Linked DNA regions of Homo sapiens. The protein of the gene in region 4 interacts with the protein of the main gene of each other region in a biochemical or structural test. Each region holds a gene or a part of one and is shown on either strand. Other genes may lie near its edges.

The links.
Region 1: the proteins of HNF1B (region 4) and LHX4 form a complex in vitro, tested with the Homo sapiens proteins (one study listed by BioGRID).
Region 2: the proteins of HNF1B (region 4) and PAX8 form a complex in vitro, tested with the Homo sapiens proteins (one study listed by BioGRID).
Region 3: the proteins of HNF1B (region 4) and SOX10 form a complex in vitro, tested with the Homo sapiens proteins (one study listed by BioGRID).

Annotation. Positions count from the first base shown.
Region 1 is NC_000001.11:180,261,183-180,268,381, forward strand, and holds part of LHX4 (LIM/homeobox protein Lhx4), read left to right. Parts: intron 1-5,020; exon of another isoform or gene 5,021-5,048; coding exon of another isoform or gene 5,049-5,071; intron 5,072-5,209; coding exon 5,210-5,412; intron 5,413-7,199. UniProt on the Homo sapiens protein: May play a critical role in the development of respiratory control mechanisms and in the normal growth and maturation of the lung. Binds preferentially to methylated DNA.
Region 2 is NC_000002.12:113,275,916-113,284,095, reverse strand, and holds the start of PAX8 (paired box protein Pax-8), read left to right. Parts: upstream 1-5,174; 5' UTR 5,175-5,265; intron 5,266-5,626; 5' UTR 5,627-5,701; coding exon 5,702-5,726; intron 5,727-8,180. UniProt on the Homo sapiens protein: Transcription factor for the thyroid-specific expression of the genes exclusively expressed in the thyroid cell type, maintaining the functional differentiation of such cells.
Region 3 is NC_000022.11:37,981,510-37,989,664, reverse strand, and holds the start of SOX10 (transcription factor SOX-10), read left to right. Parts: upstream 1-5,109; 5' UTR 5,110-5,326; intron 5,327-5,796; 5' UTR 5,797-5,880; coding exon 5,881-6,308; intron 6,309-8,155. Other genes in the region: POLR2F (DNA-directed RNA polymerases I, II, and III subunit RPABC2), read right to left, coding at 3,353-3,511. UniProt on the Homo sapiens protein: Transcription factor that plays a central role in developing and mature glia.
Region 4 is NC_000017.11:37,699,926-37,707,124, forward strand, and holds part of HNF1B (hepatocyte nuclear factor 1-beta), read right to left. Parts: exon of another isoform or gene 5,125-7,199; coding exon 4,992-5,124; exon of another isoform or gene 4,815-4,991; intron 2,972-4,814; exon of another isoform or gene 2,900-2,971; intron 1,253-2,899; coding exon 1,058-1,252; intron 1-1,057. UniProt on the Homo sapiens protein: Transcription factor that binds to the inverted palindrome 5'-GTTAATNATTAAC-3'. Binds to the FPC element in the cAMP regulatory unit of the PLAU gene. Transcriptional activity is increased by coactivator PCBD1.

The DNA.
Region 1 (7,199 bases), on a different chromosome or scaffold from region 4:
GTGTCGGGAGGCTCGGGAGGCCGGGGAGAGGGGAGCTGACCGCTGGGCTGCAGCACAGCTCTGGATGAGTGGGGCGCTGCCCTGAAGGGTGCGGGGAGTGGGCGGTAGAGAAGGGAGGCAGGCAGGGATCATAGCATGCCTGTACATGGATGGAAGGAGCCAGCAGAGGGGAAGCTAATGACAGCAGAGGCAAAGGGGATGGCTCACACCTGTAATTCCAGTGCTTTGGGGGCCAAGGTGGGAGGATCACTTGAGACCAGGAATTCAAGGCCAGCCTCGGCAACATAGTAGGACCCAATCACTACAAAACATGTCTTAAAAAATGAGCTGGGCATGGTGGCATGTGCCTGTGATCCTAGCTGCTCAGGAGGCCGAGGTGGGAAGACTGAGAGTTCGAGTGCAGTGAGCTATGATTGTGGCACTGCACTCCAGCCTGGGCAACCGAGTGAGATCCCCTCACCCCTAAAGAAAAGAGCTTAAAACTGCTTCTCTGCTCTGAGAAGCACAACTAACTGCCTTCACTGAAATATACCTCAGGCAGAGATTTGGGGTGAGATAGTAGGTCAGTTGATGTTCTGCAGGAAGGGGCAGCTTGTCCATATCAGCTCGCTCACGCCGCCAGTCCATTCTTAAGGAACTGCCAACCAGGACTGATGATGCATTTTAGCTTTGAGCTTTTGGGGGTTATCCTACCAACAAACAGTCCTTCGGGAAGAAAACAATCCCAGGAATTAACAGATCAGAATGTTCACACTGGTTAATCTTTTTCTAGCAATGAACATGAAGCTAGCAGAAGCTGGTGTGTTTCCAGATGGTTCCTCTAACCAAACTAATTTTTCACTGTTGACAAGTGAGGCAAGGGTTGCACTGGACCAAAGGCTGAGGCTTGGCCATCTAGCATTCCATGCAAAATGGTTTCCTATAAGCATTCCTTTTATTCTCTATTCTATCCTGGGTCTGCCTCAACCATGAGATAGGAGAGTCTCCGGTACTAGCTGCTGTAGCACTGCCCTTCATCCAGGACAGTTAAAGGAGTCTTGGACCTTTCTTTCTCTGGGATCGCTGCCCAGCACCTTCCTACAGAGATGACTTTGAAAGGAAAAAAAAAAAAAAAAAAAGGAAAAACAGCACACCATTCCAAGGAGCCTGGCATTCCTGAATCCTCCTTCCCTACAAGGTGCCTGTCACCTGTCTTTACTGCCTCCTTTTCCCTGTCATGCTCATCAGCTATGGCTTCTGTCCAAGTGCCTGAACAGAAGACTAGAACCTCCACTGCAGGCTGGTTTGAGGTCGTGATTTATGTCAGAATCTTGCACAGCACTGCTAATGTAAATTTCAGCTTTTTCCCTCTAGGATAAACACTTACCAAAGTATGCAACTTTTTTTGGTGGGAAGAGGGATTGTCCTGTGATTTCTACCCATTTTCTGAGGCCTGTGGAAATAAATCTTTAGGTACTTAAAGTTAGACCAAAAATAGAACAAAGTTAATACCAAACTTGAAAAAAAAAAAAAAAGAAAAGAAAAGAGCTGCCATTATGGAGAGCCAAGCCTCCCCTGACTACTCAGGCAAATGTTTTAAGAAGCAGTTCGTTCGTTCACTCATTCGTTTGCTCATTCGTTCATTCATTCATTCATTCATTGGGTCTTTGTGGCTTGCCTACTATGTGCTGGGCAGGGATAAGACAATTTCCAGTGGTGTTGGTTAGAGGATGAAAATAATATGAGCCATTAGCAAGTCTTCCTTGCATTTTCTCTGTGGTTTTGGATCAGCTCCAGCTGCTCTCCTGGGGGGACTGGTTGTCCCCAGAGGCCTGGCTAGCAGGACTGGGCAGCAGGCTTATCTTTCTGAAGGGTGAGGCCAGTGCCCTTGGTGCCCCTGCATGGGTGCCCGGTGATCGGTGTTAAGGGGTGCTGCTTGGAAAAGCCCTTGGGAGCCCTCTTCCTTGGCTGGAGTCCAGCCTTTCCCTCTTTACCCCAGCGTCCTTCATATTTGGTCCAGTTGGTTAGACTTCTGGTTCTCTGTGTAGCAGCCGGGTTCACAGTTTTACCTCGTGTGGGGCCAGGGAATTCTAGGCATGACCGTGTGTCTCATTATTGCCTGTCGCAGGGCAAGTCATGTGACCTGCCAGGCTTTGGCCTTCTCACCTGTGACTCTGGCTATTCTAAGATCTGGGAATGGGGACAGTGTCTCCATCACAGACACACCCCTGTAGGATGCCCTGTATTCTAGATACACTGGCTCTGACTGGAGATGGGGTGGAGGGTGATCTGCAGGGCTGGGCTGGGCCGGGGGAGCCTTGTGGGCCAAGGAGGTGCTGCATGCGGCTCCCTCGGCAAGGGTCCCGCTGGCTGTGCTCCAGGGGAAAAGGTAATGAGGAGCCACTTCCACTTCCCTTCAGTATAAATCCCACAATCAGGAAAATTGCTTCAATTGCTAAAAAACGCTGGTGGGGAAGTCCACTTATTTTTCATTTTTCTTGTGCACTTGCCACCCTCATGCATGAATCACTGTCGGTATGTAGATTAAATTTATACCCCCGTTATCTTTCATGTCTCTGGTGTGCTGGTGTCAGCTGGGCCTCCGGTGACTGAAAGCCCCCTGCCTGCTTTTTAGTGGGAGAGAGTGTGGCCCCTGTGGAGGAGGCTGCTGAAGGGTCTTCCCTCTGTTCCGGGGTCTCCTCTCAGCCCTCCTCTCCTTGGATCTCTGGTTAGGACACATTCTCCAGATTTGCGTGGTTTGTTGGGAGGGTTCGCAACAAGCATGATGAAAGCCTTGTTTCATTTTAATTAATTAATTTAGAGACAGGGTCTCGCTCTGTTGCCCAGGCTGGAGTGCAGTGGCGTGATCTTGGCTCACTGTAGCCTCAACCTCCCTGGGCTCAGGTGATCCTCCCATCTCAGCCTCCCAGGTAGCTGGGACTACAGGTGCACACCACTACACCCGGCTAATTTTTTGCATTTTTTGTAGAGGCAGGGATTCACCATATTGCCCAGGCTGGGCTCAAGTGATCCTCCTGCCTCAGCCTCCCAAAGTGCTGGGATTACAGGCGTGAGCCACCACACCTGGTGCCTTGTTTCATTTCAGTACCTGCTTTGCAAATTGGCTGGGATTGGATATTAAATATACAGGCCTTTTGAAAACACTCTCTAGTAACACATGTGTAGGCTTCCTTTCTCTGTTATACACACACACATAACACACACACACACACACACACACACACACACACAGTAGAGGTGGGTGCCTGCCAGCCTTCCTCTTTGATCCAGGTGATGTGGTTACACAGCAGTTGTGGAGGACCTGGTTCTCACCTGTGTTCTGGGAGGTCTAGAACCATCCAGAGCCGACTGTGTGCTTTGTTCTACATCCTCAGGTTCGGCCATCTCCGTGCACATCCTCTACAAGTATGGTGCTTTATCTGCTGATTTATTTATTCAACAAATATTAACTCTACTTTCCTGGGTCCTGAATCCCTTTAAGAATCTGATGAAAACCCAGGTCCCCTCCTGAGGCACAATTTTGAACAACTTAGCAGGTGGTTTACAGGCCTATGCTGACCCTCACGCAGAGAACTCCTGCTCTAAATGGGCCCCATCTCTCTGAAAACCAAGAGGCATTCCAGGAATTCAGAAGCCTGGGGTCCTCCCAAGCCACCACCTCTCAGCCCCTCACACCCCAACACCCTTCTTATACCCATCTCAGAAGAGTGTTCCCTGAAGTACACTCTGGGTCTTTCAGGATTACCCATGCAGACTTAGAGAACCCCCACTTTTCTCTGGGATGCTGTGTCCCTGGTGGGGGGCGTCTGAGGCTGCTGCTGGCCATGCCTATTCCGGGCCCCCATAACCCCCTCAGCAGGTATCATTACTGCATAACAGACCTATCATTCTGCATTAATCTGGTATTCATCATGATAGCCATGACCATAATTAATTTATTTGGTATTAATGTGGATGAAATATGTACTGTCCTTTCAGGGGAAATCAGGCTGCCTATAAGCATTAGTTAAAAGGACCATTAAAATCAAACCTTCCCCAGATCCATTAGGCGAAGTCTTTCATCCTGAAGAAGATAAAGTTCTGCTGTGTGAAATGTCATGAATAATTAGGTTGATTGCTGTTTTAAACTCTGCCCTTGCTTTCCCAATGCCTCCCGCCTCCCTCCTGAAGCGGGGAAGGCTCACCTGCAGCCACGCACCCTCCTTCACTGTCCCTGTCGGCCCCCAAATTTCCCTCGTCTCCTATGACCATCGGTGTGCCTCTGTTGATCTCTATGACCAGAATGGGGAAAGGGAGTGGAAACAACCCCACTGGACGATACTTTTAAGTGTCAATTTCTCCTTCCTTCCCGGCCTTGGCAGGGGGTGGCTTGCTTGGTAGAAGCTGCCTTGGTGGCAGCAGGTAGCTTCCTTTTGCCTCGGTGTTGTTCTGGAAAGGTGCTGACCAAGGAGAGGTCTGAAGCAGCATTTTCCAAACTGTAATCTGCAGACTCCTTGTCCCGAATGCTGTAGGGGCTGAAAAGTGCAGCTTCCTGGGCCCTTCCCAAACCACCATGCCCCAGGCTGTGTGCGTGCATAGGAAGGGGATGGAGGTAGGCTTGGAGGGCTTTGTGTGTGCAGAATGGAGGTGAGGGGAGAAATGGAGGCAAAGGAGAGAGAACAGCTGTCAGGACAGCCTTGCTCTGCTGACAAAGTGCATTTTCTCTGCAGCGTGCTGTCCCCTGGCCAGGCAGGGCCTCCTCCCTGGGAGTGTGTGAAAAGGTGTTGCTGGGTGCTTTCTACACACAGCCTGTGGCACACACAGTTCCCTGTGAGGATGTCCTCTGGGATCAACCATAAGGGTGAGGAAGCTGGGAGGTGGAGGGGGAGACAGCCTGCTTTGAGGGACTTAGAAAGTCCACCTGCTCCCCCTGTGAATTGATGGGTGTTAATCGGGCAGCTGGAATCCGGGGGCATCAGCTTTGGAAAAGGTACCTGAGGGAGACTCTAGTTCTCATCAGTCCCTTCTTTGGTGGTTGAAGAGTCCCAGGCACAAAGCAATGAAGCTAGATGGAGGCAGAGAGGACCAGACGGTAAGCTCTGGGTGACTGGGGGGTGAGGCTCATGGAGTCCCGGAGTGGTGGGGTAGGAGGGAGGCTGCTCCAGGAAGTTGGGGGAAGCCAGATCCCTTGCTCCCTGTGTGCCCTAATCCTTTCCTGCTGCCCTGACAGGCGCTTCGGCACAAAATGCACGGCCTGCCAGCAGGGTATCCCCCCAACCCAGGTGGTCCGCAAGGCCCAGGACTTTGTCTACCACCTGCACTGCTTTGCTTGCATCATCTGCAACCGGCAGCTGGCCACGGGGGACGAATTCTACCTCATGGAGGACGGGCGGCTGGTGTGCAAGGAAGACTACGAGACAGCCAAGCAGAACGGTAAGCAGCATGGCCCCGCATGGTCCCCTCTCCAGGCCTTTGTTTGGGCCACGCCCTCTGCCTGAGGTGCCCTTCTCATGGCGTCCCACCTGCCCATCCCTCAGAGCCCTACTCATGCACCGCCACCTCTGAGAAGCGTCCCAGATCTCCACACTGAGAGTAAATGCTGAACACCTCCCCGGCCGTTAGCACTCGCCGGCTTCATGGAAGTGTTCATCCAGCCATGGTTCCTGAGAGCCTGCCTGTCTCCATGGTAGGCTCAGAAGCAGCCAAGAACCTGGTTGTTACCATGGTGGTGGCCTCCTTCCCTGGGTGGAGGCTGGGGTGCTGAGGGGTGGCTGGGAGCTTGGTCTGTATTGGACACGTGGGGCTGCCGCTTAGTTTTGCACATCAGGGTGCACATGGACCTCTCAGCAGCCCCTGCCTCAAAGGCCGTCGGTGAGAGCCCAGCACTGGCCTCTGCACACTTCATACATCTGTCTGTTAATTGTGTTCTGTTCGCCTCGCAGACTGTGGGCTCCTCTAGGGCAGGGCCTCCTGGAGTTTCTGCAAGTGCCCAGTGAGTGCTAAAAGAAGAGGCAGGACACATGCCAGATTCAGGGAGGCTCCGTCTCAGCAATATAGCTCCCTCCACCCACTTCAATATAGCTGCCCCCACCCCCTTCACCACAACCACTGCAGGGCCACTGCCCACGGTGGCAGCAGGAGCTCTGCATGGTGGAGGCCGAAGTCAGGTCCCGCATTTAGCAGCCACGCCTGGAAAGGCCTAGCTTGGCCTGGCGGCAGCGGCTCTCGCCCTACATGCCATGCGCTTGGGCAGCCCGGGGACTTTCCAGCGTAGAGCCCAGAACAACACATTCCCCATGCTCCCCTCGCAAAGCCAAGGTGGACACTTTTATTCCTGCAGCCCTACCTCTGGCTTCTCACTCCCAGATGCACCCACATGGTCGTGGGGTCAGGCCCTGGCTCTGAATTTGGGATTTGGCCAAACCCAACATGATAACCTCAGAGGTGTGAACGCACAAAACATCAAGTTCCTTGGCCTTTGACTAGAATTTTGATCAACTCAGGGTGTTACTGTGCAAAAACGGCTCTTGTTGACAGCTCTGGGCTTGATGAGAAAAAAAATTAACAACAATTTTATGTATCTCCTTCTAGATCTTTTCTGGGCCCACACACATATTATACAGATCTCATCAATAATGGAGAAACTGGTTTTTTGTTCATTGAACACAGTATAAAATAAGGGGATTGTGGTGGTGAGGAAGCAGAGGGGATTCATAAGGGCCCTTTAGGTGAGCCAGCTGGAGCTGGGTTTGGCTTTGGTCCATGGCAGGAGTGGGCAGGGCTTCCTGTCTCTTTGAGGACCTTCCCTCCCACCACCCCCACAGCTCTGGCCTTTCAGGGTGGACAGAGGCCTTTGACCTCCTTCCTCCAGAGACCTGGGGCCTCTGCAAACCCATCCCAAGGCTCTTTGCCTGCAATGTACTAATCTGCTCTGGTTTCTTAAAACTCACTCCATGCTATTGCCTTGAAGTCAATTGTGATGTCATGGGAGATTAGGGCAACTTGTCAGGGATGAACCATCACAGCAGATGGACTCAGAGATACCAAGACACCTTTGGAAGTCTAGTGCCGTTCATCAGAGATACTAAGATGGCACGACCTCCCCGGCCTGCAGCTGGTTCTCATCAGAGGCCTCATTTGGACTCTGAGCACTCTCAGCTCAGCATCTCCTGATGTTGTGGGTGGTTCAAGAGACAAGAGAAACAGATGTAGATTGGTCA
Region 2 (8,180 bases), on a different chromosome or scaffold from region 4:
AGGCAGCCACTCCAGGGCCCTGGCACTGGTCTGAGAGGATTCCTGCGTCCTGACTCCTGCTGCTCTGGGCTGGACCACAGGGGCCTAGCTGAGGGGAGGGCATTCCTGCCTGGTGAGCTGCTCTCCTCTCCCGTGGTAGGAAAGTTTTCCAGCCTTGGGGGTCTGACCTCACCCTGGCCACTCCCTGGGTTCCAGAAACTTCCTTCCTGAGGGGAAGGGGCAGGTGTGGAGAGTAGCAAAAACTAGGCTGAAGTGAGTAGAATTTATAATATTTAAGGCAAAGCCTGAGTCACTGGTGCTTTATTTGGCCACCTAGTTGGCTGTCTGCTAGCTGGGTGGCCTTGCTCTCTACTTACCTTCCCTAGAATCCAGTTTCCTCATCTGCAAGATGGGTTGCCAAAAGGGTCTAGCTCATTTTTTCTAACTTAAAAAAAAAAAAAAAAAAAACTATGATTACTAGAGAAAAAAATTGAGCTGTGTACGTCAATCCTTTTATCTCCCTCTGTCACCTTCCTTTTTGTGTCCCCAGGAAGTTTTTTTTCCACCCATTTGTAAGTACCAGGGTCTCCTTCCAGAAGCCCAGGCAACTGCTGCCAAAGGCTGTGGGGTGGGCAAAGAGCCCAAGGGACAAGTGCCCAGGACACATCCCTACCCAAACCAACTGGACAAATGCCACCAGTGGTTTCTTCCAAACTGCCCTCGGCAGCCCAACCAGTGGCTCTTTTCCTTTCACCTGCCAGGACCTATATTTCTATTTCTGAGTTTTCAAAGCCTAGGGAGGTGGAGAACCTGGAATAATTAATGATTGATTTTCAGGCACTGCCACCAGGAGGCCCCAGGGCAGGCTGTCGGCCATTTCCTGAGTGCAGGGACAGGGTTGAAATCCCACGTGGCTTCGGCAGGATTGGGCAAGTCTGTGAGGGGAGAGGGTGGAGCGAAAACTGCCAGTGCCCTGAACACTTCTGCCCTCTGCAAAATGATGAAGTCGCTGCTGGAAGTTCTGCTGGGGTGCTGGCCTTCTGCCATTGACTCTCCCCTCTCTCTGGGTCAACGAATGTTAATTGCTGCCCTCACAGACACCCCTGCCCCACTGCTACCCTTGCACCCACGCCTGCACCCACAGGCACGGGCTCACTGGCCCTTTCCTCTCCAAGGCTCCTTTGGGAAAGGATTAAAGGAACCGACTTCCACAGCAAAACTTTAGGGACATTTTAACTTTGCCCTCTTTGGATGTATTCCTCTGCCTTTGTTGTCTAATAATAATTAACTTTTGTACAGAGGTGTAGTTTTCAAAGGGCCTTCACATTCATAATTTTATTCGTCCTCACAACAAAGCTACGAGGTGGGTCTGACCCTCCCCAGCCCCCCGTCTATATCCACATCATGCAGAAGGGGAAACTGAGGTTCGGGCAGAAGAAATCATCCCATTCTACACAATTAGGGCTGGAACACTCACCTCTGATGCAAAGTAGAGAGCTGCTGTTTTCTTCCTGAAGGGATGTACTTTAGTCCCAACAATGGTTCGTTACGTAGGGGAAGTGGCATGGTGGCAAGTAAGCCAGGAGGATTGTTGGGAGCAGTGGTCTTCCCTCGAGGCTGGTCTCTGGGCATTGTGCCCAGAGAAACCAGGGTACATAGGAGTAAGAGGAAGAGCTCATGGACCTACTGGAGTTCAAGGGTCTCAGTCACCTGAGCCAGCAGGTAGAATGACCCAAGTGTGCAAACAATCACCCACCCAATAGTCAGTTGAAACACGGCAGCTTATAAAAGACCCCCAAACCATCCCACTCCCACACTCTAATCAGCTAGGATGACCAATTCATCCTGATTTGCCCGGGAAAGTCCCAGTTTTAACTCGCATCTAGAAAACACTGTTGGTTTTCGTCCAGGGCAAACCAGGGCACTTTATTACCCTACCACCAGCCCAGTGCATTACAGCTGAGTCCAGAAAAGAAAGAACATCTTTTGAAGGCTCAGCAGATCAGCATAGAATTAAACAAATTGTGGGATATTATGCAAATTCAAAAACCACTGTAGTTAGGCAATTACCTAGGATTGTTGGAATGTTAAACCTGAAAGAATGTTCATTTCCACAAAGAAACGCTCAGATCTGCGGCCAGATCTCTTGCATTTTCAAAGGCAAGGCAGAGTTAGTCTCTCGTCTCTACTTCTGTATTTTGATATTGGCAATGAATTACATTTTCTCAAAAAAACACTGAGTTTAAAAAAATTATAACTAGTTGCCAGTTGATAATATTGCCACAAAAGCCTTATGGGCCTCAAGCCTGAGAAGAAAAGTTGGCAAATGAGGTATTCATTTTAAAAAGTGAGTTCTAAGGCCTGGCCAGGCACAGTGGCTCATGCCTGTGATCCCAGCACTTTGGGAGGCTGAGGCAGGCGGATCACTTGAGGTCTGGAGTTCGAGACCAGCCTGGCCAATGTGGTGAAACCCCGTCTCTACCAAAATATAAAAAATTAGTCAGGCATGATGATGCATACCTGTAGCCCCAGCTAGTCGGGAGGCTGAGGCAGGAGAATCACTTGAACCCAGGAGGTGGAGGTTGTAGTGAGCCGAGATCATGCCACCGCACTCCAGCCTGGGTGACAGAGTGAGACTAAGTCTAGAAGAAAAAAAAAAGAGTTCTAAAAGTCCCATTGAAAGTCTATTAGTCACAGTGCAAATTTATTTTAAAATTTCAAATATCATCATAGGAAGGCATATGATTTTTATTCTTAACTAAAAGCATCATGGATTTTAAGTTTGAAAAAATACTGTGATAATAGGTGATTTTAAAAATATATGTATTTCAAACCTTTCGTTTTGCAGAGGAGGAGACTGATGCCAAAGAGACAGAGTTAAAGCACCAGTTAATGACATTTCCTTGGCCTTGGTCTCAGAGAATTAGGAAGTACCAAGGAACCCAGGCCTGATTTCTGATTCTAATTAGAAGCAGGGTCAGTCCAGGAGGCCTGTGTTTATCTCTGCAGCAGAAGTTCACTGCATTCTCACTTCTTGCTCGTCCTAGATCTTCTCTGCTGAGTCTTCTGGTCACCTGCTATGTCACCTGCAGTCTGGAGAAGAGGTACTGTCAAGGTGTGGGGTGTGTTTTTCCCTGAGGAGTAACCTTGAACAGTGCACATTGTTTTTACCTTGAAATGAAATTTTAAAGATAAATTTATACATGGGACAGGAATGTTCTGATAACTTGCTGGATTTGTCCTCTAAGAAATTTTGCCCAAAAAGGGGATAGGAAAGGGAGAGGGTTCATTGCTTGGGCAGAAAAGATGTGCACAGGCAAGAATGATTGCATGAGAGTCAATGGTTATTGGTACGTATCAGAACCTTAGATTGGGTAGAATCTCTAAGGTTGTCAGAGCTGTTTGAAATGAGGGCGTATTAGATTCACCCTGGAGCATTGCCTCCCTGGTGGGAGGGAATCCTGGGTGGACAAAGAGAGTTTCTGCTGTGGCTGCCACACTCCACACCTCCCCTGCAGCAGGACACAATCCAGGGCAGCAAACTGGCCCATGGGGTCCGGAGGACCTATGCCAAGATCCATTTCCATCCCAACACCCTTGGATTGTCTCTCTCTGGGAGGGACTGCCAGAGAAGTTAGGGATCTGGAGCTTTGAAAACCACAGAGATATTTAAAATTACAATTTTAGAGAAAGATTTAAAATGATGAAGCACCAACTATTTTTGTTTACAGCCCCTCTTTGCAAATGTGGAGGAAACATGTAGGGATACACATCTTCTTCTCTCTTTTTTCACAAGATGATTCATTTCTCCTAAATTGAGAAATGAGAAAGACTGGGTGGAAGGAGGTTGTGGATTGACATGAAAGAGAAAACTTTTTTAATTCAGAAAAATAGTTCATGTGTTTTCACACACGTGTACATATGTGCATACACACACACACACACACACACACACACACATCCAATCCCCCTGAATATCCCAGTTTCCCCTGCACCTTCCTTGCCCCCCTCCCACTGGCTTCTTAGCCTCCTGTCCCAGAACAACCCCACCAGGCCTGCAGAGCCATCACTGAAAAGGGCATGGCTGTCCTCTAGACTGTAATCCTGAGTCCAGAGGTCTGGCCAAAGATTGGAGGAGCATCCAGGCCTTGACCCCCAGGCCTGCCAGTGTTCCAGGACATTTGCTCACTCATACCCACTCACAATCTTACGTGTACCCCGGTTCCCCGACTGAGAGAACTATGAGGAAGGAGGGGGCAGCTTTTGCCATCACTAAGGTAAAGAGGTGCCAGGCAGCTCTGCTCGGTCCCAGGGCTCACCAACCCTGCCATCATTCCCACCAGTGGACCCCTTCTTAACCACACCCAGGCCCCCATATTGCTGAGGCTATTGATTCCTACAGACCAGGCCAGAGGTCAGCTCAGTCCTGTTCCTTTCTAAGGCCTTTCCACACAGAGATGAAGTCTAGGCCCTCAATGCCCTTCCCCTGAACTCTTCTTCCAAGTTCAAAATCCTCAAGGAGCAAGAAAGAGGGCAGGTGGCTGCGTGTGTGTTCCAGAGGAGAGAGGCGAGGAGTTGCTGTGGAATGGGTTATGTGACAATTTTGTTAGCCTGACAATGCAAGGGTGTGAACGCTATCTGTGTAGAACAGAGGGAATGGCTTCAGGTGCTGCTCAGGATTCTTCCCTGGAAGAGGTCATAGCTGTGGTGAGAAGGTAATAGCATCTTGCCTACAGCCCCGAAAGCAGGCTCTACCTAAAGAATCAGGCATAAAACAGAAGTTCCCTCCTTCCTTTTACAAAAGAAAAGGCTGCTTCCTGGTGAGCAAACCAGGGGAGACAGGGGGCAAGGAGGGCATCCTACAGAGACCATCCCTCTCACTTCTGGTGGTCAGTGACCCAGGAGGACCCAGAGAACCTCATCCTCAGGCTCCTAGGCCTCTGTTCCCCACTCCTCCAATATTTCCAGGCCTGCTGAGTTAGGGCTCAGCTGCCTCCCTCTTCCCTCCGCTGGAAACAGAAGCTCCCAGCGAATGTTTCTAACTCCTGAGTCCACTCAGCCATGTCCCCCTTGCAAAATCCTCCCCTTCCCGCACCCCCCTGCACCCAGCCAGCCAATCCGCGGCCTACGAGCCTCGCCAGACCCATCTCCCAGGGCCTCAGCGGGATAAAACCGGTCGGTGATGCCGGGTGGATGGGAACAAACTTCAGAAGGAGGAGAGACACCGGGCCCAGGGCACCCTCGCGGGCGGACCCAAGCAGTGAGGGCCTGCAGCCGGCCGGCCAGGTATGTCACCCAGGGGTTAGCTGGAAGCTGGCTAGCAGTGAGGACGGGGGATGGAAGAAAGGAGAGGGTCCCAGGATGCCTGGCAGCCTTTTCCCTCCCAAGTTAAACGGGATAAGACTGGGACAGCGGAGGGAGTGGGCACGGAGGTTGGAGTCTGGAGCTTCTTCAGCGCACTCCCAATCCTTGATCCTCCCGGGAAGCCTGTTAGCTAGGCTAGGCTGAGGTTGGCCCTACTTCGCCTAAAAATCCTCCTACTCCTGGCAGACGATGCAGGTGTAAAGGATGAGGCCTGGGGAGGGGGCCTGAGGATGCAGGCATCGAATCTCATCGCATCTCATGCCCTTCTCCTGGGTTTGTGCAGGGCAGCGGCAGGCGCGGCCCGGACCTACGGGAGGAAGCCCCGAGCCCTCGGCGGGCTGCGAGCGACTCCCCGGCGATGCCTCACAACTCCATCAGATCTGGTAAGAACGCGGTGTGGTCAGGATCCCCGAGCCCCCGCGCCGCTGAGCGTCCGTGCGTGCGCTCGGGTGGTTGGATCTCGAGAGCGTCAGCACGGGATTCGCGGGACCCACCCGCGTGGGGACCCAGCTGGGGCGCCTGGGGCCTGGCCCTCCGCTGGAGCCGCCTCGCTGTTCTCGGGCACTGGGGTTCCACCCGGCCAGCTGAGCCGCCCTTGCCCGGTTTCGAGGGACCACATGGATCGGTGAGGGGATCTCTGTGGAGTTAGAGGGGGTTTCCTTTGAGCTCCATTCCCAGCCTTGCATGGCGCATTAGTGTGGACATTCTTCGTGCTCTGTCCCTGGGCTGCACCGGTGCTGGACTTGCCGTTTCCCCGTCCCCGACCTCTAAGTCCTCTTCCTCGGGTGCGCGCAGTCCTTCCCAGTGACTCCCCTGGCTGGACTGTGAGCTCCCCGCATCTCTCAAGCCAACGGCAATGGAGCCGGTGGTCCCGGGCCCGGGAGCCGGCAGCGCACTCAGGTGCTCTCCGACTCCTCCTGGCCCAGCACCGGGCAGGCCGGGCGCCGCGCGCGGGGCGTCCGGCTGGTGAGGACTAAGCCGCTCGCGGAGTCAAAACCCCCTCCCCACCTGCGCCCGGAAGCAGGGCCTTCAAACACACTCGAGCTCCCAGGCCGCGATGCCTGTTTTCCCCCTTCCCGGCCAGGGCTGGGCAGGGTCTTTGCTGGGAAGGAGCTCCAGGGTCAGGGCTGGTGGGCGCAGCCGTCCCGGCGCGCAGCGAGTGCGGACAGCGGTGGAGGCGCAGCGCGGCCCGCAGTGATGGATGGAGCCCGGCCGGCCGCAGAGAAGGCGATTTATGGGGCCAGGGCGCATCGCTATCGATTTGGGCCGGCGAAGTGAGAGGAAATCAATATTTCAGAATGAATTCTCCGCGAATATGATGTCCCGCTCTGCAAACGGGACATTTGTTATAATAAGGAGGGTCGGATCGGGCGCGCAGCGAGGCTGAGATCTCTATTTAGCCAAGCGCACTGCGGGGGCCCGGGCTCTGCGGCGCAGTCTCCAGTCCCAGGGCCATGGCCCAACTAGGAGGGGAGCGGGAACCCCCTGGGGCGCCGGAAGATTTCTCACTCGGGTTCTCTCTAGAGCTGCAGACGAATGCTCCCTCCCGGCCCCCATTCCCCTCAGAGACCTGGGCCAGAATCGTCCGGCTGCCCCCAGAAGGCGCGGGGTCCCTTCAAGGTCCTCAGGGGAGAGACCTCGCAGCCATTCCCCGGCGCGGCGGGGTTGGGGAGCCCTGGGACCGAGCAGAGCTCCCTGGCACCTCTTTACGGTCCGCGTCCTGGAACCACGAGCGCTCCTAGGCCACTATCTAAGGTCAGGATCAGGTTTTAGTCCCTTAATCTTTAGCCAAACCGTGGTACGATACCAGACATCGCCAGGACCATCCCTGAGGCCTAATGTGCAGTGCCCGGTGCCCATGCCAAGCTGGTGCAATGGCACTTCTGCGCCAAGCTGGTGCAATGGCACTTCTGCTCGGCTCTGGAGGTCCATCTTTCCTCCTAACCTTCCCCTGACCCTTCCGGCGGTGGCAGGAGGAGTGAGTGCTCTCGGAAATCAAATTCACTGTGGCCGGGCTGGACCCTTACTCTCTGCCGCTGCCCAAGAAATGAGACGATGTCCCCGTCCCTCAGATGAGCTTTTTTTTTTTTTCGCGGCTACTTATTTTCATTCTAGAAGTACTCGTTAGAATAGATGGAAATAGAGTATGGAAAGAATAAATAAAGGCACAATTTATTTTTACTGTAGTTTTAATCAGGAACAGTCCCAGATGATGAGATGCGCGCTTTCCCACTAGCTTGGATGCAAATCGCGCTTGGGTTTTGGGAGGGAGCCCTCTGCCCCTGGACCTACCAGGTAATTTTTTTCCCCTTTCTTCTTTTCGGGAAGACAGAGGGGCTTCTTCTACCCTCTTTCCAAAACAAATAGACAAAGTGGCGAGGGAGGGAAGATGAGACTTTCTTCTCATAGTTTAATTTAAACGCTAATAAAACAAGAAAATGGCCTATAACCGCATAGACTGCTGAAGGCGCTCCCTGTTTCTTTTCTGAACCCTCCCTCGGCAAACCTGAGGGAGAGGCCGTCTGTCTTTCTGATCAGCTTACCTGACACTGTTGTCTATAACCGGAGCTAAACTCATAAGCGGACCCCTCTGGTTTTTACAAGCCCATTATCTCTCGGGTTTTAGCAGGTTCCCCCTTTTCCCCAGGCACCTCTGTTCCTGAGACCGGCCGTGCTTAGGGAGCTCCCCTTGAGTTTTCTGTGAGCAGAGCCCGGGACGCAGGCGGCCACACGGCTTTCCGCGGGAGCGAGGCCGAGCGCACCCTTCCCAATAACCGGGGACGCTCGAGAAAACCTCCCCGCGCGGCCTCCGCCGCCCAGCCTGCCACGGGGTCGCC
Region 3 (8,155 bases), on a different chromosome or scaffold from region 4:
TCCTCCCTAAAATGAGAATAATAGCATCTACTCAGAGGGTTGTTGGGAGGATGAAGTCCGATGACAGGAGCCCTCACAGCTGAGCCGGCACCTGGGGAGGCCCTAGAGTGTCGCCTTCGCTGTTAAGGGGCATGGCAGAGGAGGCCCACCCATGACAGAGGAGCTTGTCATCCCAAGCAGGAATGCCACCTGGTCTGACATTAGGATTCAAAAGGCAAATGATAAACTCCTGACTGTGAGGCCGTGGTGGCTGCTCGGTTAATACTTGTGCACTTGACCTGAGGTGAGCATCCTCCACACCTCCCAGTGCTGGCCTAATAGCTAAATGATTTCCTCTGACTCACATTTATTGAGCAGTCACTATGCTAGGTAGGGGAGATGTGTGTGTGTATTCTTATTTAATTCTCTCATCACTTGGGGATATCAAGGGTGCATAAGATTATCAACATCGTACATATGCAAAAGCCGAGTCCTGAGAGGTTAATAGCGTGATCTGCCTAAGGCCCCTTGGGTACTAGTGGCAGGATTTCTTGACTTCAAGTCACTTTCCACTACATCCGAGACTGAGGATGACACAGCCTTATCCAAAGGTGGAGGTGGCCTAGAAAATGCTCAGGGGAGCTCCCACAGCCACCCCAGCGCACTCAGACTCGGCTGAAGACCCACAGGGTAGCTTCTGTCTGTCACTATGCTGCCCTCGACCACTAACCTGTGCCCGTCGGCCCTCCACCTTCCCAGTGCATAGGCCCTCCCCTGCCACACCCCAAAGCTCTCCGGATACCCCAGTATAACCTGCCTGGCTGGTGGGTCCAGTACCCAAGACCCCTCCTCCATCCCTGGTGATTTTGGCTCTGGAAGGGGGTCATTCACAGCCTCAGGGATCCAGAGACTCTGTGAAGACCTCCCAGGGAACTTTATGCTTGTACCTCAGCCCCAGAAATTCAGAATCAACCAGTCTGGGGTGGGATCTAGGCTCCAGTATGTTTTTTTGTTGTTGTTGTTGTTTGTTTTTATGAGACAGAGTCTTACTCTGTCACCCAGGCTGCAGTGCAGTGGTGCGATCTCGGCTCACTGCAACCTCTGCCTCTTGAGTTCAAGTGATTCTCCTGCCTCAGGCTCCCACGTAGCTGGGATTACAGGTGCGTGCCACCATGCCCAGTTAATTTTTGTATTTTTAGTAGACATGGGGTTTCACCATGTTGGCCAGGCTGGTCTCGAACTCCTGCCCTCAGGTGATCTGCCCGCCTCGGCCTCCCAAAGTGCTGGGCTTACAGGAATGAGTCACCACGCCTGGCTCAGTATGTTTTTCTTTTTTTCTTTTTTTTTTTTTTTTTGAGACAGAGTTTCGCTCTTTTTGCCCAGGCTGGAGTGCAATGGTGCAATCTCAGCTCACTGCAACCTCCACCTCCCGGGTTCAAGTGATTCTCCTGCCTCAGCCTCCCAAGTAGCTGGGATTACAGGCGCCTGCCACCATGCCCAGCTAATTTTTTTTTTTTTTTTTTTTTAGTAGAGACAAGGTTTCACCATGTTGGCCAGGATGGTCTCAATCTCTCGACCTCATGATCTGCCCACCTTGGCCTCCCAAAGTGCTGGGATTACAGGTGTGAGCCACCACACCCAACCAAGGCCCAGTATGTTTTTCTTAACTCCACAAGTGATTGTAAATTCAACAAGAATTAGAGCCAGTCCTAGGCAACTGATTAGAAATGCAGAACCTCAGGCCCCACCCCAACCTGAAGAATCCCAGTGCGCCTTCCCATTTGAGAAGCACTGCCCTACGCCAAACCCCGTATCCGCAAGCCAGGCCCTGTGAAAGGCCCCCGCAGGGAAACTGGAGGTAGGAGGGCACACAGTCCAGATAGAATTAAAGAGTGGAGGCCAGGACCCCCCAGGTCGCATCCACACAGCACTCAGAGGTGCTAAACGCTTTCCCTGTGTTCCCTCATCCCATCTCAGCCCTGTCCTCTGAAAGTCAGGAAGACAGTCTCATGCCTGTGTGGGGAAACTGAGGCTGGGGCAGAGCCTCAACTTGACCAGACCATCCCTCACTCCTGCATGGCCCCTGGTTCTGCAGCCAGCAGATTTCCTGACCTTCATCTCAGTGTATCCTTCAGGGCAGGCAGGGAGGGAGGGTGACCATCGCCCCACGTGACAGGTGAGGGACCAGGGACCCAGTGGGGGAACACAGGCGGAGCCTTCCATAAAGCCGGACCAGCTCCCTCAGGAAGAGGACTTGGGAGCTGGGGGGTGAAGGGTCACTGCTGACCGGAGGCAGCTCTGCCAGGCAGTGTCATCAGTGGGCTTCACGTTTGACTGACAGGTATTCCTTTCCTCTCCTCCTCTCTGGGGCCCATCTTCTGAGTAAATCCGGGACCTGCCTTAACAAAAGCCAGGCTGAGTCCCAGGAAAACCCTGTTGCTCCGGAAAGGCCTCCTTGGGCCATGGAAGGAAGCCTGGATTTCCACCATTACACTCAGACCGCAGACCCCTCTCTGCTGCAGAATAAACACCCTGAGAGAAGGCAGGTCATAGAGCCTACCAGACACCACACCTTGCCATGGACGGTGACAAACCCTCACTTCAGGACAGAGAGGTGATGGGGGGTGGGGTAAGGAGGTCACAAGCATCCCTGGAGAAGGGTCAAGAATGAGGGGGTAAAGGGACCCCTGCCACCCCCAGCAGGGAAAGGAGGAGAAGGTGACACTGGCCCTCCTGTTGTCCTGCTGGGGCAGAGGCCCAGGTGTCTTCAGCCAGGATCCCTCCCCTCTCCAAGCTCCCTGCTCTTCAGGAATGACTATGGGTCCTTCACCCTTGCCTGCTGGAGAGCACTGGGTTCCCAGGGCCTGGGATGGGATGGAGGGGATCCCAGTTGCCAGCATGGTGGGCAGGGATGTGTTCGCAGCAGGGGCCCCAACCACACACACACAGCACTGGTCATCTGACAGCCCTTCCCACCCGCCCTGCAGGCCCACCTGCCTCACCCAACACTGCTCAGCAAAAAGCCCAGCACAGCCCTGAGAGGAAGGCAGTGTCTGTGCGGGGACAAGGGAGAGAGAGAGGGAGTGGCCCCTTCTGTCTAGCGTGGCTTCCTGCAGACAGAGCGTGCCCACTGCTACCCCCACCCCCATCCTGGCACAGCTGGACCAAGGAGGGCAAAGGAGGAAGCAGGGAGTTAGAGAGGGGGCAGCTGTGGGACCCCACATTCCACCTCCTAACTCTGGGCTCTTTCCTTCCACAACCACCCCTCCTGCCCCAGGCGGGTCTCAGGCCAGTCACAGACACAGCAGAGAGCGGGGAGGTCCTTTCCTCAAAGAGGAGGAACTGAGGGGTGGAAGGATGAGTGGGGACCCACCGGGAGAGAGAGATGCCAGGCAGGCAGGCAGCGGGCGGGCAGCAGCGGGTGTTGGAGGCGACTGCAGGGCAGCCGGGACACGACGGCAGATGCTCGTCCCTCGTCCCTCTGTCCATCCAGGGCGGCTCCTCTCCGGGCGGTTCTGAGGCCGAGCGGGCGCTGTTAAAAAGCTTTTTATGTGTGTGTGTGTTAATCACATGATTGCCGTTCACCTGTATTTCGAACAAAGACAGCTCACTGTTTCAAGGCCCCGAACAAGAGTCTGGGCACAGGGAAGAGAAGGGAGGCGGGGGGAGGAGGGTTGGCAGCGCCGGGGGTGGCGTCGAGGAAAACTGGGGGGAGATTGTCCAAGGCCAGCAAGCGAGAGAAAGAGAAAACCCTTATCAAACTCCTAATTCACTGGGCTCCGAGGCCCCAGACACACTGGCCCGATTGTCTGGCTGGTTGTGTGTGTGAGCATGTGTGTGTGTGTGTGTGTGTGTGTGTGTGTGTGTTCCAGTGTCTGCTCCCCCCACCCCCAACATGCCTCTGCCTCGTGTGACTACCTCATTGTGTCCCATTTCCCACCCCCTACACCCCTTTGGACTTTCCCAAGCATGAGGCCTTGCCTCCCCAGACCCTTTGCAGCCCACTCCAGACAGGACCCCTTGGGGTGGTCTTGGGGCTTTGCCCTGCTGTTGAGGAGCTCAGAACGTCACATGGTTGCCAATGCGACCCCAGCTCCATTACATAACCCACATACACCCCACCTCGGCCTCAACACCCCGGCGGGGCTGCCCTCAGTTAAGAGAACAGCACTGCGACCTTTGGAGGAGAGGCCAAGGAAAGAGAGAGAAAAAGGTGTCAACGGAGGATGGGCAGGAAAGAAAAGGGGAGGGAGGGAGAGGTGGGCAGAGGAGGGAAGAGGCAGGGCAAGTCCCCACCCCTTGTTGGGGTGGGGGAGTAGAGGACTTCGTGACAATCAGGACTAGGACTCCCCTACCCTCTCCCAAGACAGGGTGAGCCCAGTGTGGAAGGAGCTGGGTCCCAGTAGGTAGCAACCCAAAATGCCTCTAAGACCTACTGAGAGAGGGCCCCCAACCTGTCCCACCTTGGCCTCCTGGCAGCTTTAGTCTTGTGTTTCCACCTTGAACCAGACCAGAACGCGCGTGTGCTGGGTGTCTGCAGAGAAGGGACCAGGGGTCAAGCTGGGGCTCTGCACTTCTCAGAGGGATCCCTGAGAAGTCTCTCTTACTGTGCAGGATGGGGCAGAAAGGGCTGCCTGGGAAAAGGTAGGAGGCAGGGTGAGGAGCTGGGCATCAGTGCCTGGCACACACTAGGCACTCAACAGGATTTCGCAGACGAAGCAGCTAGGGCCAGCCACCCTCACGGGCCCCCAGGACCCTCACCGCCTTCACGTCTCTCCCTAGTCCCCTGCCAAGTGCCCATCCTGCCACCTGAGGCAGACGTTAGGAGTCCTGGTTGGGCCCAATTTTCTTCCATCCAACAGGTTCTGACCCTCCAGCCTACATCTCTTCCTTCCTCGGCCTAACCTCCCCTCCACCTCCCAGACTAAGCCCAAGATAAGCCTCAGCAAGATGGGCCTGGGCAGTAGGGCAGGGAGCTGGGTGGGGGGGCCTGGGCTCCGGGTGGAGGAGCCCTGAGTGTTGGGGATGAAGGAAAGCCTGGAGGCTCCACCTTCTGCCCTTCCCTCCCTCCTCTCCCCTCCCCCCTCTCCCCCTCCTTCCTTCCCCAGCCCTCCGCAGCGGCTCAGGCTCAGTCGCTCAGTCAGTCTCGGGCTGTCCGGCCAGGGTGGTTGGTGGTAAGGATTCAGGCTCCGTCCTAACGAGGCCGTGGCCTGAGGCTCAGGGCCCCCCGCCCCTCCCTCCCAGCCCACCAGCGTCACCTCCCAGCCCCGAGCTGGACCGCACACCTTGGGACACGGTTTTCCACTTCCTAAGGACGAGCCCCAGACTGGAGGAGAGGTCCGAGGAGGTGAGTGCGCAGCCTGCTCCTCCCTGGCCCGCCCAGGCCTGGGACCCTGCTGTGAGGTGGAGAGAGGCGACACCCCGCCCTTGCCCCCCACCTGGCTCTCCTCTAAACCCCGTTGGGGCAGGCTGAGGGAAGAAGGAAAGGTGAGAGAAAAGGTGGGAAATTCCAGGGGCCGGGATTAGAGCAAAATAAAGGCTCCGTTTTTTTCTTCCTTATCATCAACAAACCTCCACCCAAAAAAGGAGGCTAAAAAAAAAGCCACCCACACCAAGAGACGGTTGGGACCAGGTGGTGGGAAGACACAGAGGCGGGACGCACCCACCTAGAGTCTGGCATGTGCGTGGGCCCCAGGGGCCAGATGGGTTTAGCTGGAGCAGGAAGGGCCGCCACCTCGGGGCTGTGCCCACGTCCTGTCTCGGGCCGCCCTCGGGGCTGCGCGCGCGGCCGCTCCATCGCGCCCTCCTTCCATCCAGGTGGGCGTTGGACTCTTTGCGAGGACCCCGGCGGCTGGCCCGGGGGAGGCGGCCGAGGCGGCGGCGGCGGCGGCCGGGGGCGACATGGCGGAGGAGCAGGACCTATCGGAGGTGGAGCTGAGCCCCGTGGGCTCGGAGGAGCCCCGCTGCCTGTCCCCGGGGAGCGCGCCCTCGCTAGGGCCCGACGGCGGCGGCGGCGGATCGGGCCTGCGAGCCAGCCCGGGGCCAGGCGAGCTGGGCAAGGTCAAGAAGGAGCAGCAGGACGGCGAGGCGGACGATGACAAGTTCCCCGTGTGCATCCGCGAGGCCGTCAGCCAGGTGCTCAGCGGCTACGACTGGACGCTGGTGCCCATGCCCGTGCGCGTCAACGGCGCCAGCAAAAGCAAGCCGCACGTCAAGCGGCCCATGAACGCCTTCATGGTGTGGGCTCAGGCAGCGCGCAGGAAGCTCGCGGACCAGTACCCGCACCTGCACAACGCTGAGCTCAGCAAGACGCTGGGCAAGCTCTGGAGGTGAGCACCCGACCGCCCCCCGGGCTCGGGCCCTCTAGCTTCGGGTGGATTCAGGGTAGCCGAGGCGGCCCGGCCTCCTGCACCTCAGAGCGGGACTGTCTGGCAGTCCTCCTTGGATAGGGCTGGAAGACCAGGTGTGGGGGCCGCGCCCGCCCTTCCATCACAAGGACCCTGGAACTCGGAACTCCAGCGGCCTAGGCCGGGTCTCCCTACGGGGCGGCGGGCAGGAAGGCGCCCCCTCGTGGTTGGAATTTTGCGGGTGGCAGACCGTGGGGCCTGGGGCTTTGGAGGGAGGGAAGGAGGCCTTCACTAACTCCTGCCCACAGATACGCACACTATGCCACCAGCTGCTGTGGTCAGGAGGATACGAGGGAAACGCTTGGAAAGAACCAAAGGGTTGGCTGGAGATTCAGGGAAACTGAGGCAGTCAGATGGAGAACTCAGGGGAGGTTTAAAGAAAACGGAATTCAGATGAGAGTCTTTGGAAGAGTGAGGGATGAAGAACTGCGGGACAAATCTGCTGCTGCGGGACCTCATCCTATCCTAGGGCTCTTCCCTGGGACTTTCTGACGCCACCCTCCTTTGAGTTGGGGGCTTCTTCATCCTCCTAGGGAGAGGACACACAGTAAGGGGCTCCCCCTCCTGCCCTGCCCCAGAGTCACCAAGCTGATCTCTTTCCTCCCTCTCCCAGTTCGGCGCCATCTTCCCTGCCAGGGCCCCACCCCAACGTTGAGCAACCTCTTCCCCACTGCCCCAGAGCTGGAGCTGAGCACTCTGGCCAGAAGGAAACCTTGGCCTCCTTCCTGCCCAGGGGCCCTCAGAGTCCCAGGTTCCCTGGGACCAGCCCACACCTCTAGGAAAAACATCCCCCGCAGGGAGCAATTATCCCACCCTCGACTCAGGTCTGGGGTTCAGCCAGGCCTCCTGGGGATGTGTGGAACAAGACAGTCCCCCACTCCCACCCGGGAGTGCCAGAGCAGCTCTGAAAGAGACCAGGGACTCCAGGAGATGTGAGCCGGTAGCAGTCACCTGATTCTCGCTAGACTGACCAAGAGACAGGCCCAGAAAGGCAAAGGAATCACAAAGGTCACATAGAAGTTGGTAGCAGAGCCAGGGCCAGAACCCAGGACTCCCATACTCTCTGTCCAGAGGACTTCCCCTGACCCTGGTGACAGTGGTGGATCACCTACACTTTGAGGAGTGGTCAGGAGGTTGGGGGGAAGCAAGAAGATGAGAACAAGAGTGAGGAGCATCTGGGTTCCAGAAAATTAGGGCTTTGTCAGAGGAGCCCGGCTCTCTTCCGCTGCCCTCCCCCTTGCCAGCCACAGTTGGGTAGAGATTGGGTCTAGAGGCTTAGAGTGGTAGAAGGTGCAGGAGGATCTCCAAGAGACCAAAAGATTCACATCCCGCCCCCTGGCCTGTTCTTGCCATGTGTTTGCTGAAGACCTGGTGCCCCTTCCCCTGCCCCTTCTCAGCCCTCAGTGCCCTGCTCACCCAGGGCAGGCCCAGGGCTCAGCGACCAGCCCGCTGTGTGGACCCAGACAGCCCAGTTCTGCCCAAGAGCAGAGGTCACAGCTAGCTCCTCCACCCAAGGTCCATCCAGATCTGGGTGGGGCTTGGCCCAGGCCAGTATCTTTAGTGCCAGGGGACAAAGAGCAAGTGAGAAACAGACAACCAGGAGAGACATACAGATAGGGCAGACTCTGGGGACCATGAGAAGACCACAGTACGAGCCCAACGAGAGTCAAAGCAAGGACGGACCTCATTTTCCCTCCATCTCCCATTGCCAAGGGTTTAAGATTGGCTCCTCCATTGTCCCTGTCCCCAGGTTCCCCCAGCCCAGAACC
Region 4 (7,199 bases):
CACCATCATTGCCTTCTAAGAGTCCCTTTATAAATAATCTTTATAATTTTTTATGCTTACCAAACGCAGTTTACCCCTATGTTTATTTCATATTCATAATGACTCTAAATGCATACTATTTCCATTTTATGGATGTAGAGATTGGACTTAGAGTGGCTAAGTAACTTGCATTAGGCTACACAGCTGGTAAGTATCACAGCCAGGATTTAAATCCAGGTCTGTCTGATCTAAGACTAGTGCTTTATACTGAACACTTCCTTGGGGTTTCTGAAGCAGAGAAGCCACGATTCCTCCCCAAACTCCTGTGTCAGGGGCTATAGCCAGACCTGGCCAGAGGATTGGAAGCCTGGGACTCAGGATGAAAGGCAGAGAAACAGAGGATGGGATTGGATGGGAAATAAGTGGTCGAAAGGTAGGCTTGGGGTAGGTATAGAAATTGGATATGAGAAACAGTCTGTGTGCAGAGATGCAGGGGTGGCATGGAGGAAGAAACTCTAATGCCCAGGATGGCATGCCACTGGTATTTTTCACTTGTGTTCATGGTTCTTGATTAGAGATGTTTGGGGTGTATAAATTGGAGGACACGGGACTCTAGAAGATTCTTCTCTTTTAGGGAAGGCAAACAGGATGCAAATTAGATGCCAATTGTGATCATTTGATAATGGCTGCTTGGAAGTTTAGATTGCAAAGGCTAAGTTGAAGTTCACTGGGAAAAGGTGCTGGTGGTTTATGGACGCGATCTTTTCCAGAGGTGTTGGAATGGGAAATTGGCGGTGTGTGTTCCACATGCTGTCTGGCTCCAATTCCCCTTCATCTGTAGGCCTACACTGTCCTCTTCAAACCCTTCCCTGGGAATCTCAGGGGTAGAGAAGAGGACTAGAAAAGGTACAGCAACACTCAAGAGTTATGCTTGAGAAATTGTCTTAGTCGGTTGATCATAGGCAGGGAAAAGTGACCAAGCCAATAAACTTCCGAGAAAGTTCAGACCCAGAGAGGGAAAGTGGTTGGCCACTGAGGGTCCTGAGTGCTCCCTCCCTCCACATGCCCGTGTCCTTACTGTGTGAGTTCTGCAGCTGAGTCACAGCTGCCATGAAGGGCTGCTGGGCCATGTGGCTGCCTGGGCTCTGCTGCATGAGGGGCTGCTGGTGAGGGCTGTGCAGCTGCTGGGAGAACTGGACGGGCTGCAGGGCTGCCAGGCTGCCGGCCACACTGTTGATGACAGGGACACTCTGTGCTTGGGAGGTGTTGAGGCCTGTGGGAGCAAGAGGAAAAGATCACAGACAGCTCCTGGGATAAGGAGAGGTGGATGGATGCCATCATTTGAGCCCCCGCTCAATGTCCCAGTCACCGGGCTGAGCCTGTTACATAGGAGATTCCATGGGAGGCAAGTGTAAAGAAACGGAGACTTGGAGATATTAATTTACTTGCTCAAGTTCCACAATGAGTTGTGGGTTGGAGATGGGCATTAAACAGATCTGATTAAAGCCTGAGAGTCTCCCAGAGTCATCCTGTGACCTCCCAAACTTAGCTCTCTTGAGGTTACCAGGGCTTTGGAAAAGCTGGCTCTACCTGCCCACTCCATCCATGCCAGGCTGTGAGAGAGGCTTGCCCTGGTGCCCGCAGGGCAGAGTTAAAGATGTCCACACTGAGGCACAGGTTATTGCCCAGATCGGTCTGTCCAGTAGAGGGCAGGAGTGTGCAGGGACCCAAATTTTGACTAAAAACAACTTCCATAGTCCCGGGAGTATGAGGTTGGGAGACCCTTATTTAGTAGACTGTACAAAGACCCCCAGAGAAATCAGGTGCCAACTCCCTTGACTGTAACAGAGAGGGGAGAAAACACTGGAACTCAGCCAGTCTGCGAGGCGGGCATATCTTATGTGGCAGCATAGGGCTTGTGGCACTAAAAGGACCAGGTTTTAGAAAGAGGAAGTAGTACATTAAAGGTTGACTCTTGGCATTTATAGTGGGTCTTCCCATCTTTCTGTTCTGGAGATGTCAGGGCCTCTGTAACTTGGAACTGTGTATCCTGAGGCCTCTTTAGAACCCGGGCCAGCACTCTGAGGATTGGATCCCCTGGTACCCATGCTCTATCTCCTCCCTGAGAGCGACACGGAGGAAGACAGCTAAGGTAGGATCGGAGTGGGGACAGGACGATCAGGAGAGAAGACACCTGGACCTGCTTCCTGGGGTCGATTGTGTTCCTGTGTTCTTGCTTTCTGGGAAGTTGGGGGAAGAATGGGATGAAGAAGGAATCCAGAAAAAGGTCTGTTTTAGGTGGATGTGGAAGGGACACCTAGAGAGGCTTTCCTGAAATGGAGACGGTTTCATAGGCAGGTTTGAGGGAAGTCATCAATGGAGATAACACGGAGTCCTCAACAATTGCCTACTCAGAGCTTTAGCTGATACTGTTATCAGAAACCTAAAAGGCGAGACCCCTGAGCAGAAAGGACAGGGGATGAATCCTGCTTCTGGCTCTCCTGGGTGGGGGCTGGGGGTGCCACCCTCTGATCACCCTCAGAACAGCACTGTCTCCAGTTCCCCAGGGGGCTCAGCGTCTCCTCAAGCCAGCATCTCACCAGATACCCTGATGACCGATGACCGTGTTTCCCTTTCCTACCTCCTGCTTATGGTCTCAGTCTCCCAGAAAGCTCCATGAATGTGCCGTTTTTGAGAAATCTTTGAGAGCACTGCTGCTGCTCTTTTTGAGAAACTGCTGCCCAAAAAAGCAAATGATCCTGTCTAGAGTGGATGACATTTGAAGGCATAGTTCTGAAACCTGCATGTGCTTCAGAAATCATCTGGGGGAGCTCTTTAACAAATATACATTCCTGGGCCCCACCCAAGACCTAATGAGTCAGAACCTTCAGAGGTGGGGCCCAGGAATCTTATTTTCAATGCAGTCTGTGATCCTGATGTGCCTCAATTCCAGGATTGAGAGCCTCTGATGTCATTCCAGCTCCCTCAGTGGGTAAGTCTTGACCTTTTCATCTGTTTCTGTTTCTGGGCACTGGTTCTTGCTTGGGAAGTATGCTATCCAGTCCAGGGAAGAGATGAGAAAGAGAATAGGATGAAGAGGTGAGAATGAGTAGAGAATAAGGAATTGGCCCTGCCAAATAATTTGTTACCACCTTCTCCACAGGCTTCCGCAATTCTGAGGCAGGGCCCATGGTACTCAACACATCAGTCAGTTAAATGAAGATGCCTGCAACCAGTTTCTCATCCTAACACTCCATAGTGTAGGACCTCTGTGTCTCAGCAGTCTTCTGGTGATTCTCACCATTTCTCATGCTCTGTCTACCCCAAGTGTACACAGATATGTACACACACAGCCATCCTTCTGAGGTCAGTGTGCACTCTGGTGCAGCCCATCTGAATAGGAGATTAAGGAGCATCGTGAAATGATAGAGAAATATGAGTAGAGGAAATTAGAAAGAACAAAATGGAAAGATGCAGACTAGCCCCAGGGAAAATTTTAATTCAGATAGTATATATATATATATAACTGTATGGCAGTGAAAGCTTAGAATGGAAAGAAAGAAGTTAAGTGGGACAGTTTGTTTATTATTTTGGTTGCAGAAATAAGTGGAATATCTTCCCCACGGGCCTTTTAATCAAATCTTCTAAATGGCAAACAAGCTGGTTTTAGGTATCTTATCTCATTCCAAACTCTGGTATTAGTATAATTACCATATTCCATATACCAGAGGGCCCAGTCAAAAGGCAATACATTTAAAATGATCATTTATATTGTGAGTTCTCTAAATGCTTCCCCATTCCCATTTTCCTTCTGCCAAAATCAATGCACTGTGTGTCAATTTCCAAGCAGCTAAGGATAGAGTGAGAGCCACACATATTCAATAAATTTGTGTGCCTCCAATGGGCTTAGCCCTGTTCTGACCTCAAAGGATGTGTAAGTCATTCTCTTCAGAAGTGAGAATCCAAGTTCCGACCCTAGCTAAAGCTGATTTAGGGAGAGAAGAGGGAAGAAAGAAAAAGGCAGAAACAAAACAAAGAGGTGGCCAACATGAGCCCTAGATACAAGGAAGGTAAGAGGACAATGGAGCAATACAAGGTTGAAAGAAAGATGACCAATGTGTTACCCTTAGATCTCTCCCAAGACATCCAGCAATACATCCAAGGGTCACAAGGATGGTTTTGAGAAACAACGACACCTGAGCTGTCATAGTGAAGCTGGAAATATGCTGAATACTCATCAACATTAAAACTCTCAAAGAGATATCCACAACCACAGTTCCCTTCAGCCTTCTCATGCCTCAAGATGGCCCATGTATGGGAGGGCACAGGCTTGCTGTTGAATATGAGCCTCCTGGAGCTGGAGGGACCTGATCCATCTCCGTGTCTTCAGGCGTGTGATGTGCCAAAGCAAGCTTTTTCTCCTTAAAGTTTTCAAAGCTCTCAGATACAATGGCAGTTTCCCTCTGGATCCTCCCTTGGTGTATTTTCACTGCTGGCCAAGGAGATTTCATATACCACACAAAACTCCCCATTTAGAAGGAAACCTGTCATTCTTACTTCATCATCACCAAACAGAAAGAACCTCCTGAAAAATCTACCACCTACTTAGTGATAGGAATGAACTCAAGACAAAGTGTAAGCTACGATGTTATACATATTCATGCTTTAGAGATTTATAAGCATGTTCATATTCACTGTCAGTTGATCACTTTAACAACCTATTTTATAGATGAGGACATTGAATCTCCTGAAGGTTCAATGATTTGACCCAGGATGCACAGCTGCTAAACTGTGACCAGGATCCAAATCCATTCCACAATTTTCTCTTGTTTTAGGCTAAACAATCCAAATATTGGATTTAAGGAGACAGATGAGAAACTAAAGAAGTTAAACCAAATCTACTAGTCGTGGGTGAGTTTGAAGGAGACCTACAGTTATTTTTCACCACATTAATTTGCTTCCCATTCTTCTTCTCCCTGCCCCCAAGTTTTCCAACCAAGAATAGAACTTACTTTGTGCAATTGCCATGACTCCAGAGAGGGGTGTCATGATGAGGTTTTGAGATTGCTGGGGATTATGGTGGGAGAGGCTGTGGATATTCGTCAAGGTGCTGACTGGGGGCAAACCTCCTCCTGAGACTGAGATCTGATGGAGAGAAAAAAACAAGAGAAACATGGGTGGACTTGGACCACAAAGAGCAGTTTCCAACACGATGTGACTTAGCGATTCCTTGGCATGACTAGTTCTCAAATTCATTCCTTCATTCACTCAATAACAATTATTGGCTGGGCATGGTGCTTCACCCCTGTAATCCCAGCACTTTGGGAAGCCAAGACAGGAGGACTGCCTGAGCTCAGGAGTTCAAGACCAGCCTGGGCAACATGGTGAAATCATCTCTACAAAAAAAGAAAAAAACACAATTATTAAGTGTCTACTGTGGGACAGACACTATTCTAGGTGCTGGGGATAGAGCAGTAAGTAAAACAGACAGTGATCCCTGCCCTCATGGTGCATCTATTGTTGACTGTCTGAGTTACTAGCCAGCTTCAGAAATTACTAAGGGTTGGGGGAGATTAGCCATTACAAGGTTTCTCTACTTTTTCCACATCTCCAGTACACATTACAAAATTTTTTTTCTTTTTTGGTCAAGGATCCTATATTGTAATCACCATTATATTTTAATGACAGATTAGTATGAGAAAGCTACTGATTTTGGTGTATTTACTTTGTACATGACCACTTCACTGAATCCTACTAGTGTCTTTTCCTCATTGATTTTTTTCCAAGTATGTAATTGTAATACAAGCATCTGATGGTAACAGGGTCTTTTCCTTGCTAGTACTGATATGTCTACATGTCCTATTATATTGCTTAGAACTTACAGTATTAAACAATAACAGCTGTAATAGATGTGCTTATTTTGCTTCTGATGTTATCAGAAATGTTTCCAATGTTTTCCCATTAACTCTAATTGTAATTATAAGGGCGCGATCAGTTTTAAACACACCTACACTTTTTCCATGATACATTAGTTTACTACTTATAGTTTCAAAATAATTTTTTTCTTTTTTTGAGGTGGAGTCCAGCTCTGTTGCCCAGGCTGGAGTGCAGTGGCATGATCTCTGCTCACTGCAACCTCCGCCTTGTGGGTTCAAGCAATTCTCCTGCCTCAGCCTCCCGAGTGGATGGAACCACAGGCACCTACCACCACGCCTGGCTGATTTTTGTATTTTTAGTAGAGACGGGATTTCACTATGTTGACCAGGCTGGTCTTGAACTCCTGACCTCAGGTTATGTGCCCACCTCAGCCTCCCAAAGTGCTGGGATTACAGGTGTGAGCCACTGTGCCCAGCCTCAAAATAATTTTTAAAGTTATTATGAAGAAAGGACTGGCCCCTCTTATTCTGAACCCAGGCGTGCTTGAGAGCATCAGGAACCCCGAGAGGTGCTTTAGGGTTAGGATGCACCAGATGTCTGAGTAACTCAACTTTCCTTCTTCCATCTTTCACTTCCCAGAGCTTTTCAGACGATAGCTCTCCCACCAGCACCCAGGTAAGATGCTATCTCCCACCCTGCCCTTCCGGTCAACTCCATAGTGTCCAAGGTTAATTTGAAAAAGAAAGAAAGCAAAAACCAAACAGGTTTGTTTGTGTTTTTAAAATAAGCATCAAGAAATGTTAGGGGGTCACATGACCAAGAAGGAATTCTGACCACATCAAACAAGAGAGAAGCAGCCTGTTTGCTGGACTTGTTTTTCAAAATACCAGTCATTAAAAAAAAAAAAAAAAAAATCCGTAGCCTGCCCTCAGACTGAATCTCTTGGGTAATGTAGTTCCTTTGGAGAAAGTCAACCAAGTGACAGTAATTTCTCTGACATTTCAGCATTTGGTTAATGGTATAAGAGAAGTGTGGAGGCCAATGATAAAAATAATTTAAATGTGTGTGACTTTAGGATTTGTAAAGTGCTTTCACTGATTGTCCTTAATAGATAATGACACAAGTAGGGCAGGCATTATTACTATCAGTCCCTGTATTACAGATTAAGAAACTGATCTTCAGAAGAGTTGAGACTATTTCTATGTCACTTGACTCATAAGTGAAAAAGCCAGAGTTAAAATCCAGTTTTGCTGGAGCTTAAATCTTATTCACTTACTAAGTTTGGGCAACCTTGATCAAGTTACTTCCCATTCTAAAATGCAACTATTATTTTTAATTTTTTT